Linked DNA regions of Homo sapiens: region 2 is linked to region 1. Evidence: fine-mapped expression QTL. A gene starts in region 1. The other region holds a variant in brackets. All regions are shown on one strand. Distances are between the middles of the regions. Region 1 holds the start of LRFN5 (leucine rich repeat and fibronectin type III domain containing 5). Region 2 has its middle 62 kb from the start of LRFN5-DT.

Region 1 (4,393 bases):
AGCTCAGCTGGAAAGGGTGGCAAGTGGGACAATCCTGAAGAAAAAAGAGTCACCCCCACGTCCTAAAGTACTTGGAAGTGCTCGCTGGGATCTGCCTGTACTCCAGGTTGGTGCAACTCCACCGCCCTCCAGTGAAGTCCCAGAAGCGATCAAGTTTAAAGTGAAAGGGGGATGGAAGCATTTTTTCTCCCTATGCCTTCGGAGTCTGTGGCTTCAGTTTGCTGCAGGTTCTCTCCGTGGACTTCTCAGAAACCTCAACTTTCCACTTCGAGGGACAGAAAGCTACAAGGAAAACGCTGATGGTTTTGGTGGAGATTCTCCTGGACTTCAGTGGTGTCCTCTGGTACATCTGTCCGCGGTGTCCCTTTGGTTTATTTCTGTGGTCTTCCTGCGCAGTCCCTCAGCGGCTCGGAGTTTGGCCTTCCAGCTCTCCAACTCAGATCCTGAGCCTCCTAAGCTCCCGCGGAGACCCTGAAGTCCCGGATCTGGCGCCGCTCGCCGACCTGGAGGGAGGCTGCACCGCTGAAGTGCAGTCTCGGAGCTGCGCTCCTCTGGAACAAAGCAGCCAGACGTGGCTTGAGTGGATTCCTAAGCCAAGGATTGGATCCGGAGTACCAGGGGCAGAGAGGGGGAGCAGAGGAAAGAAAGGAGATGTGAGGAGTTTCCACCTAAAGCACTTCACTCCTCGTGTTCTTCCCCGACAGAGATAGCTGTGTGGTTCTTCCTTACGCGTGGGTGCAGGTGTGCGCGCTTGGGGTGAGCCCATGGTTGTGCTCGAGTATACGGGCGCCTGTGCACCTCCAGGGCAATGGTAAAGCCTGGCAGAGCTCTTTTTGGAACAAAATGAAGGAGCTCCATATCCACGGAGGCCACCCGTATGGGCCTTTGCCAAGTAGGGCAGAAGAAGCCCTTGTTAGCCAGCTTCCCTTTGCAACTTCCTACTCTTCCTTTGGGTACAGACTGGTGTCTGGGCTAGCTAGGATCACAGCTGAGAGCGAAGGTGCTCTCAGTGTCCGAAGACCACGTGCTGGTGAACCCACAATGAGAAGCGAAAGGGTTTCAGGACTCTAGCAGAAAGGAAGAGCAAGATTTCACTCAGGGTTTCTTAGAAGAAAGAGTTAACTTTGCTCACTGGCTTTTCCAGGATGGAGGGAGTGGGGATAGGGTCGGGGAGAGAAGCATTGGGAGTCTTGTCGGAGTCTCAAGCAAAACCAGGCGAGGGCTCCGGGCAGATCCATTCCCGCAGGGCCCTGTCTAACCTCCTTTCCAGTCGCACCTCTTTCCTGCTTTAGACCCTGCGTCTGTGCCGGTGACCTTAGAGACTAGGTCTGGCTTATGAAGACTGTTGGGCTCCCTTTCTGCCCTTCACATAGTAAAATGTGACCAACTGCAGTATTCGTAATGTCTGATGCTGAGCTGAGTTGATTCCCAAATATAAATGTTCTTTTCAGAATCCGCTCCCATCTGATTAGTAAGCAAATCACCACCCACAACTAAGGGGACAGCGGAAGCCAGCCTCAGATGACTGAAACCCCCAAGTCAGTAGCTCTCCTCAAAATTTCCGGCGGGTTATTATAGATAATGACTTTTCCCACCGCCCTAAGCAGCCGAAGCTTGACTCAGTGATGATTCTCTCTATCCCGTAACTGCGAGGAAGTGGGCGATCAGCAAATTGCCCTTTTGCAGGAGGCTGGGGACGCCCCTGGAAGTTCGCTTTCATTCTCCAGGTTTTCTGCCTTTTCCCTTCCCCCTTCCTGCAACGCCCCCGCGCCTCCTCAGCCTGGGGATTTCCTGGCGCTTCGCCGGCCCTCTCCGCAACCCCCTGATAAATCGGTTCAGAACCAGTCTGGCTGGGAGGCCCGAGGGCTGACAGCAGCGGAGCGGCCCCGGCCGGGGTCTCACGGACTCTCGGGGTCTGGCCGACACGGCCGCTCCCGTCACTGCAGCGCGGGCTGAGCTCACGGCCGCGCGCCCGCCGCCGCCGCCGCCGCCGCCTTCATGCTGCAGCGCAGGGCTCAGTTCCACGCGGCCAGGAGGCCGCCGTTGCCCACACGCGACGCTTTGGGAAGCCCAGCTCCCGGGTCCGCCCCGGCCGCGGCCGCAGCCCCGGACCTCGGCTGCTTGCCTCGCGCCTGAACTGCGGACTCGCCCCAGCGCGGTGGCCAGCGGGCGGGGCGCTGTGTTCCGCGGCGCGCAGGGAGGCGGTGAGCGTGTGCAGAGCTGCCCGAACGGAGGACTATGTATGTGTGTGCGCGTGTTTGCGTGTGTTTGAGCGTGTTTTTCCTTCTTCCCTTGAGGATGTGAATTGTTTAGCAGCTGGCTGCTCCCTTAGGATCCTTGACTTTGGGGAGCTCTGGCTGTGAACACAGCCCACCCATATAATCCATTTTGCACGGTCCGTTATATCAGAAAAAAAAAGCGCAACTGGACGGGGGTGGGGCAGACCAACGAAACCTAGACAGACACACACACACTCAGAGGAGAGAGGAAGAATTGAAAGACTTGAGAAGACTTTGATAACCTCCCTGCTGGCCCTTCTGTGTTCCGGAAAGATCCTGGATGTTGGCTACCTTTTCAAGTCATCTTGGCATGTCTCTAGTGTTTTGTAAGCCGCTTTCCAGCTAGCTGCGTGTGTGTGTGCGCGCGCGTGTGTACGCGCGCGCCTATCTGATGCATTTGACTGTCTTTTATCCAACTGCCCAGAAGCAAATGTGTTAACTCGGCGATGCCCCTTCATGCCCGGGTTCTTGCAGAGCTCTGAGGACGCCCAGACCCATTTTCCTGGCTGGATTTGGAGCGGCTGCTGGGCTGTGGACCCAGGTGTGTGGATCGCTTTACCCAGAAGCTTGGAAAGCGCCAATATTAACCTGCTTCCAGGTACATCACAAGGTCAAGAGAGTGTCTTGCAGCCCTCTTGTTTCCGTGTATCTACACCTTCTTCTCTTGGCCAGAAGGATATTTACGTTTTGGTTCACAGCATTTGAAGCCAAAAGTTCAGCCCTTCGAACTGGTTTGCTATACAAAACAAAACAAAACAAATAAGGTAATGAGGATTGCTTATTAAACTGCTTAACAAAATCCCCGACTCTTCCTCAGCCCTTTCTCGGCTCCCTCCTCCCCACCAAAATGTCACCAGCTCTTGAATTACGTGGATTCGGGTTGGAGGAGAACTTGAAGGAAACGTGATTAAAGGGCTATGCGAGAACGCTCTCTTTGCTGCCCGCGGTCCGGTGGGCTTCGAAGCCAATCGTGAGAAGGACCGGTTCCCTCCGTGCTGCTTCCTCCCCGTGCAGTGCTGGGTGTGCGTGTGCGAGTGTGAGTGCAAGTGCGCGCGCGCCCGGGTGCGAGTGTGTGTGAGTGTGAGCGTGTGTCTGTGTGTGCGTGCGCGGCCGCCCTGCCTCTGCCCGCTCCCCGGGCGCGGAGCCGCGGGTTTCATGGGGCGATTGCAGCGATTCCCCCACCCAGAGCGACCTGCGGGCAGCGGCGGCAGTGGCAGGAGCCGCCTTTCCGATTCCCTACGATGCGGGTGCTGAGCTATGGCAAAGGGCAGCGAAGTGACGAGCGAGACCCGCGTACGACTGTGAAAGCCACCTGGAGCCACCTTGCCGGGATTGTACCTGCAGGCAGAAAGTCTTCCTACGACCGTCTTTTCCCTTAGAGGCACCAGGTAACAAACCAACGATTACTCGCCTCACCCAATTTCCTTTTGATCTTGTTTCTAGTGTCTTATCTGCATTGCAGGCTACTTTACTTATTAATGTTTTGAAAATCATTGGGAAGGGTTGGGTATCCAAGGGCGCCTGCTCTGTGATTTTGTAATACGATTTCTAGTAGGTGAAATATAAATCTATACCTAAGCACTTAATCTAGTAGTGAAAGCTTTGAGAATATGGATGTGCTCCACCCTGAGGATATTTTTTGAGAGCTAGGCGTGTGGAACCTGTCTGAAGATGCCAGAGATCAAAATTCTGTGTTTCCTTCAGGCTGTGGTTGCCACGGACCATTTGGTACCCAACCCTTTCCAGATTGTGAAGTGTGAGTGGGTGTTTGGTTTCCACCCATCATTTAAACCAAAGATCTTTTCTACCCTTTTCTACCTCTGGTGCCAGGTTGTTTTCCTTTCCTTGTTGTGGAGGAGCTTGCCAGATCTTTTTAGTAGTTGTAAATTACGCATCTGGAGACTTTGACTCGAAATGGAGTTTTCTTGGAACTTGGTTTGCATGAAAGGGAATACATATTGTCACGGCTGTGTGTCTTGAGATATGGTGTTTAACTGCCAGGACGTGCTTTTATGTAGCAGAATAAATCCATGAAAGAAGTCATTTTTATATCTAGCAGAACCAGGCTAAAACGATAGCCACCACCCAACATTCTCTCCAGCTGTATTGTCCCC
Region 2 (4,393 bases), 76 kb before region 1:
AATATGGATGTTCTAATATCTCTTTATGACCCTCTTTTCAATTCTTTCAAGCAAATATCTAGAAGTGAAATTGCTGTATCATATGCTATTTTTATTGTTTTCAGGAAACACCATACTATTTTCCACAAACATCTGTATCACTTTACATTCTCACCAACAATGTCCAAGTGTTCTAATTTCCCCACATGCTTGCCAATATATTTTCCATTTTTTATAGTAACCATTCTAATGAGTGTGATGTGGTATCTAATTGTAGTTTTGATATGTAGTTCCCTAATTTTTAGTGACTTTGAACATTGCACAATTTGTTGAACAATATTAATTGGGTTGCTTTTTGTTGTTGTTTAGTTTCAAGAGTTCTCTGTATATTCTGTATAATAATACGCTGTCAGATATATAATTTCCAAGCATTTTCTCCCATTCTGTGGGTTGCCTTTTCACTGTGTTGGCAGTGTGTTTTGATGCATATTTTAAAAAAAAATTCCTTAGGTCAATTTATCTACTTTTTATTTTGTTTTCTGTGCCTTTGGTGTCATATTCAAAAAATAATTGCAAGACTAAATGTTTTGAATTTTCTGTCCTATATTTTATTCTAAGAGATTTTTAGTTACAGGTTTTACATTTAGATCATAGATCATTGAGTTCATTTTTATATATGGTGTTACGTAAGGTCCAACTTTATTCTTTTTTATGCGAACATACTATATGTTTTCCCAGCAGCATTTTTTGTAAAGATTGACTCTTCCTCTTCAAATGGTCTTGGCACCCTTGTGGAAAATCATTTAGACATATATTTTAAGGTTTATTTCTAGACTCTATTTCATAGGTCTGTATGTCTCTTTTTATGCTAGTACCACACTGTTTTCATTACTATTGCTTTATAGTGAGTTTTGAAATCAGCTTGGTAGTGTGAATCCTCTAGCTTTGTTATTCCTTTTCAGGATTGTTTTAGCTATTTGGGATCCCTTGAGATTCCATATATATTTTAGTATGGGCTTGTCTAATTCTAAAAAACATGTCATTGTGATTTTTGATTGGGACTGCATTAAATCTGTAGATAGCTTTTGATAATACTGACATCTTAACAATACTGAGGCTTCCAATCCATGAACATGGATATCTTTTAATTTGTTTATGCCTTCTTTAATATTTTCAGCAATATTTTGAAGTTTTAATTATACAGTATTTTACTTCCTTGGTCAAATTAATTTCTAAGTATTTTATTCTTCTTGATGCAATTGTAAATGGAATCATTTTCTAAATTTTCTTTTCAGATTATTTATTGTTAGTATATGGAAACATAACAGATGTTTCTGTGTCAACTCTATCCTGCTACTTTGTTAAAATCCTTTATTAGTTCTGATTTGAGGGGAATCTAGATTTTTTTCTACATATGTAACTTGTTATCTATGAAAATAAATAATTTTGTTTTGCCTTACAATTTGGATTTTTTCTGCCTTATTTTATCTGACTCCAATTTCTAGTACTAAGTTGAATAGAAATGGAGAAAGTAAGCATCCTAGCCTTGTTCTTTAGTCTAAAAGAAAAGCTTTCAATCTTTCACCATTAAGGATGAGGTTCACTGTTTTTTTAATATATATATATTTCACTATGTAAAGGTAATTACTTTCTATTCCTAGATTGTTGAGTTTTTTTTTTTTTTGAAAGTGGGTTGAATTCCGAGAAATTGTTTTTCTGCATCTATCAAGATGATCATATGTTCTTTTTTCCTTCATTCTGTTAAGTCATATATTATATTGATGACTTTTATGTGTTGAACTATACTTGAATTCCAGGAACAAATTCCACTTGGTCATGGTTTATAATTCTTTTAATATGTTGCTGAATTTGGTTTTTGAGTATTTTGATGAAGATCCTTACATCAGTATTTATAACATAAATTGTTCTATAGCTTTCTTCTCTTTAACTGTGTGTGTCTGTCTTTGGTGTCAGGGTAATGCTAGACTAATAGAATGAGTTGGAGTACGTTATTTCCTTACAAAATTATTAGGAAAGTTTGAGGAGCATTGGTATTCATTCTTTATTTTGTAGAACTCACTGGTGAAACAAACAGGTCCAGGGCTTTTCATTGCCAATAAATTTTTGATTGCTGATTTAATCATCATACCAATTATATGTCTATTAAGACATCAATTTTGTTGGTTTTCACAAAGCACCAACTTTCAGTGTCATTGGTTTTCTCTATTATTTTATATTCTATATTTTTTTAAAAATCTCTGTTCTGATACCTACTATTATTTTCCTTCTGATAGCTTTGGGTTTAGTTTCATTTATTTTCTAGTGTCTTACATTTAAAGTTAGATTGTTCATTTGAGATCATTTTTGCTTTTTAATGTAAGCACTTAAAGTTATAAATATTGATTTAACACTATTTTTGCTGTGTCCCACAATTTTTGTATGTTATGCTTTGGCATGTTATGTTTTCATTTTCTTTTGTTTCTAAGTATTTCATAGTTACCTCATGATTTCTTCTTTGATTCACTTGTTTAAGAGTATATTATTTAATGTTTTAAAAATTATGAATCTTTCAGTTTTTTCCTACTGTTGATTTCTAAACCCATCCCAGTTTGTTTGGAGAAGATACTATGCAAGATATGTATTATTTTAAATATACTGAGATGTGATTTGTGGAATAAC[A/G]TATGATCTATCCTGGGAAATGTCAGCTGTACACTTGGGAAAAATGTATATTCTATTTTTATTGGATAGAGTGTTCTTATAGATCTGTTAAATCTGTTGTGTTGTACAAGTACTCTATTTTCTTACTTATCTTCTGTCTGGCTGTTCTATTATTGAGAGTGGAGTATTGAAGTCTCCAACTATTATTGTAGAACTTTTATTTCTATCTTCAATTTCATCAATGTTTACTTTATATTTCTATGATCTATTACTATAAATGTAATTGTCTGTAATTGTTATGTCTTCTTGCTGCATTAAAACTTTTATTAATATAGATGTCTTTAGTTGTCTTTTGTGTAAAATTTATTTATTTAAAGTTTATTTTGTCTAATATTAATATAGGTGCTCCTCCTCTCATTTGCTTACTATTTTTTCTATGGAATATCCTTTTCCATCCTTATACTTTCAACCTACATGTGTCTTTGAATCTAAAGTGACTCTCTTATAGACAGCATATAGTTGGGCCACGTGTTTTTACACCCTCTATTAATCTCAGGCTTTTGATTGAAATGTTTAAGCCATTTACATTTTAAGTAATTGTTAATAACTTACTTATGTCCTTTTGGTATTTGTTTTCCATATGCTGTTATTTTCCTCATTTCCTGCATTATCGTTTTATTTATTTGTGTGCTTATCTGATTTTTTTTTGTAGTTAAGCATTTAAATTCCTTTCTTATTTCATTTTGTACCTATTTTTAAGATATTTTCTTTGTGGTTTTCATGGGTATTTAACAGCTGAAAGGTATAATGCTCTAATTTGAATAATTACAAGCCTAACTTTGATAACATACCAAAACTCTATTCCTTTGATAACTCTGTTTCAGCCCATGTCAATTGTTGATGTCACAAAATTATACCTTTATAAATTGTGTCCAAAAACATAAGCTAATAATTTTAAAATGTATTAAACTTCTAAGTTATGTAAAATACAAATGTAAAGCTACCACCTAAAGTTACAATAATACTATCTTTGAAACTAATAAGTGTCTGGGTTTTGAAAAATGTATTAATTGCTTAAATCATGCAGAAAACAAAAACTGGAGTTACACACCCTTGTTACAATAATACTAGCTTTTATAATTATTCATATATTTATTTGGCTAAGATCTTTACTTCTCCTGATTGCTTCTAGTTATGCTAAAGTGTTCTTTCATCTCAACCTGCATGACTATCATTAGCATTTTTTGCAGAATATGTGTAATAATAAGGAGATATCTCAGCTTTTGTTTATCTGGTCATGTCTTAATTTTTTTCTCACTTTTGAAGAACAATATTGCCAGATATTGGATTCTTAGTTGACATTTTTTTCTTTTAATATCCAAAATAAATCATCCCACTGCCTTGTGGTCTCCAAAATTTCTGAAGAGAATTTTGCAGATAATTTTAGTGAGGTTCTGGTATATGTAATGATTCACTTATCTCTTGCTCCTTTCAAAATTAACTCTGTGGGGTTTGACAGTTTGAGTGTAATTTCTCTAGTGTGGATCTTTTTCTAATTATTCTTCTTGAAGTTCATTGTCATATTTGGATGTTTATATTCATGTCTTTCATTGAGTTTGGGGAGTTGGGGTCATTATTTATTCAAATACTTTCTCTGCCCTTTTCTCTTTCTCTTCCCCTCTTGGAACTCCCATAATGCAAATGTTGGTCTGCAAGATGTTGTCCCACAAACACCTTTTGCTATGTTCACTTTTCC

Evidence for each region. PIP is the estimated chance that this variant, and not a neighbour inherited with it, causes the effect. A credible set is the group of variants that fine-mapping cannot tell apart.
Region 2: its variant is the best candidate, but not a certain one, in a credible set for the expression of LRFN5 in spleen (GTEx, PIP 0.70).

What each region holds. Positions count from the first base shown.
Region 1 is chr14:41,604,896-41,609,288 of GRCh38, forward strand. LRFN5 (leucine rich repeat and fibronectin type III domain containing 5) reads left to right here and starts at 1,981. Exons shown (of 6, transcript NM_152447.5): 1 at 1,981-3,667.
Region 2 is chr14:41,529,305-41,533,697 of GRCh38, forward strand. No RefSeq gene overlaps it. Among named protein-coding and RNA genes, the nearest start is that of LRFN5-DT, 62 kb to the right of the region's middle. The variant A/G (reference allele first, on the strand shown) is at 2,659.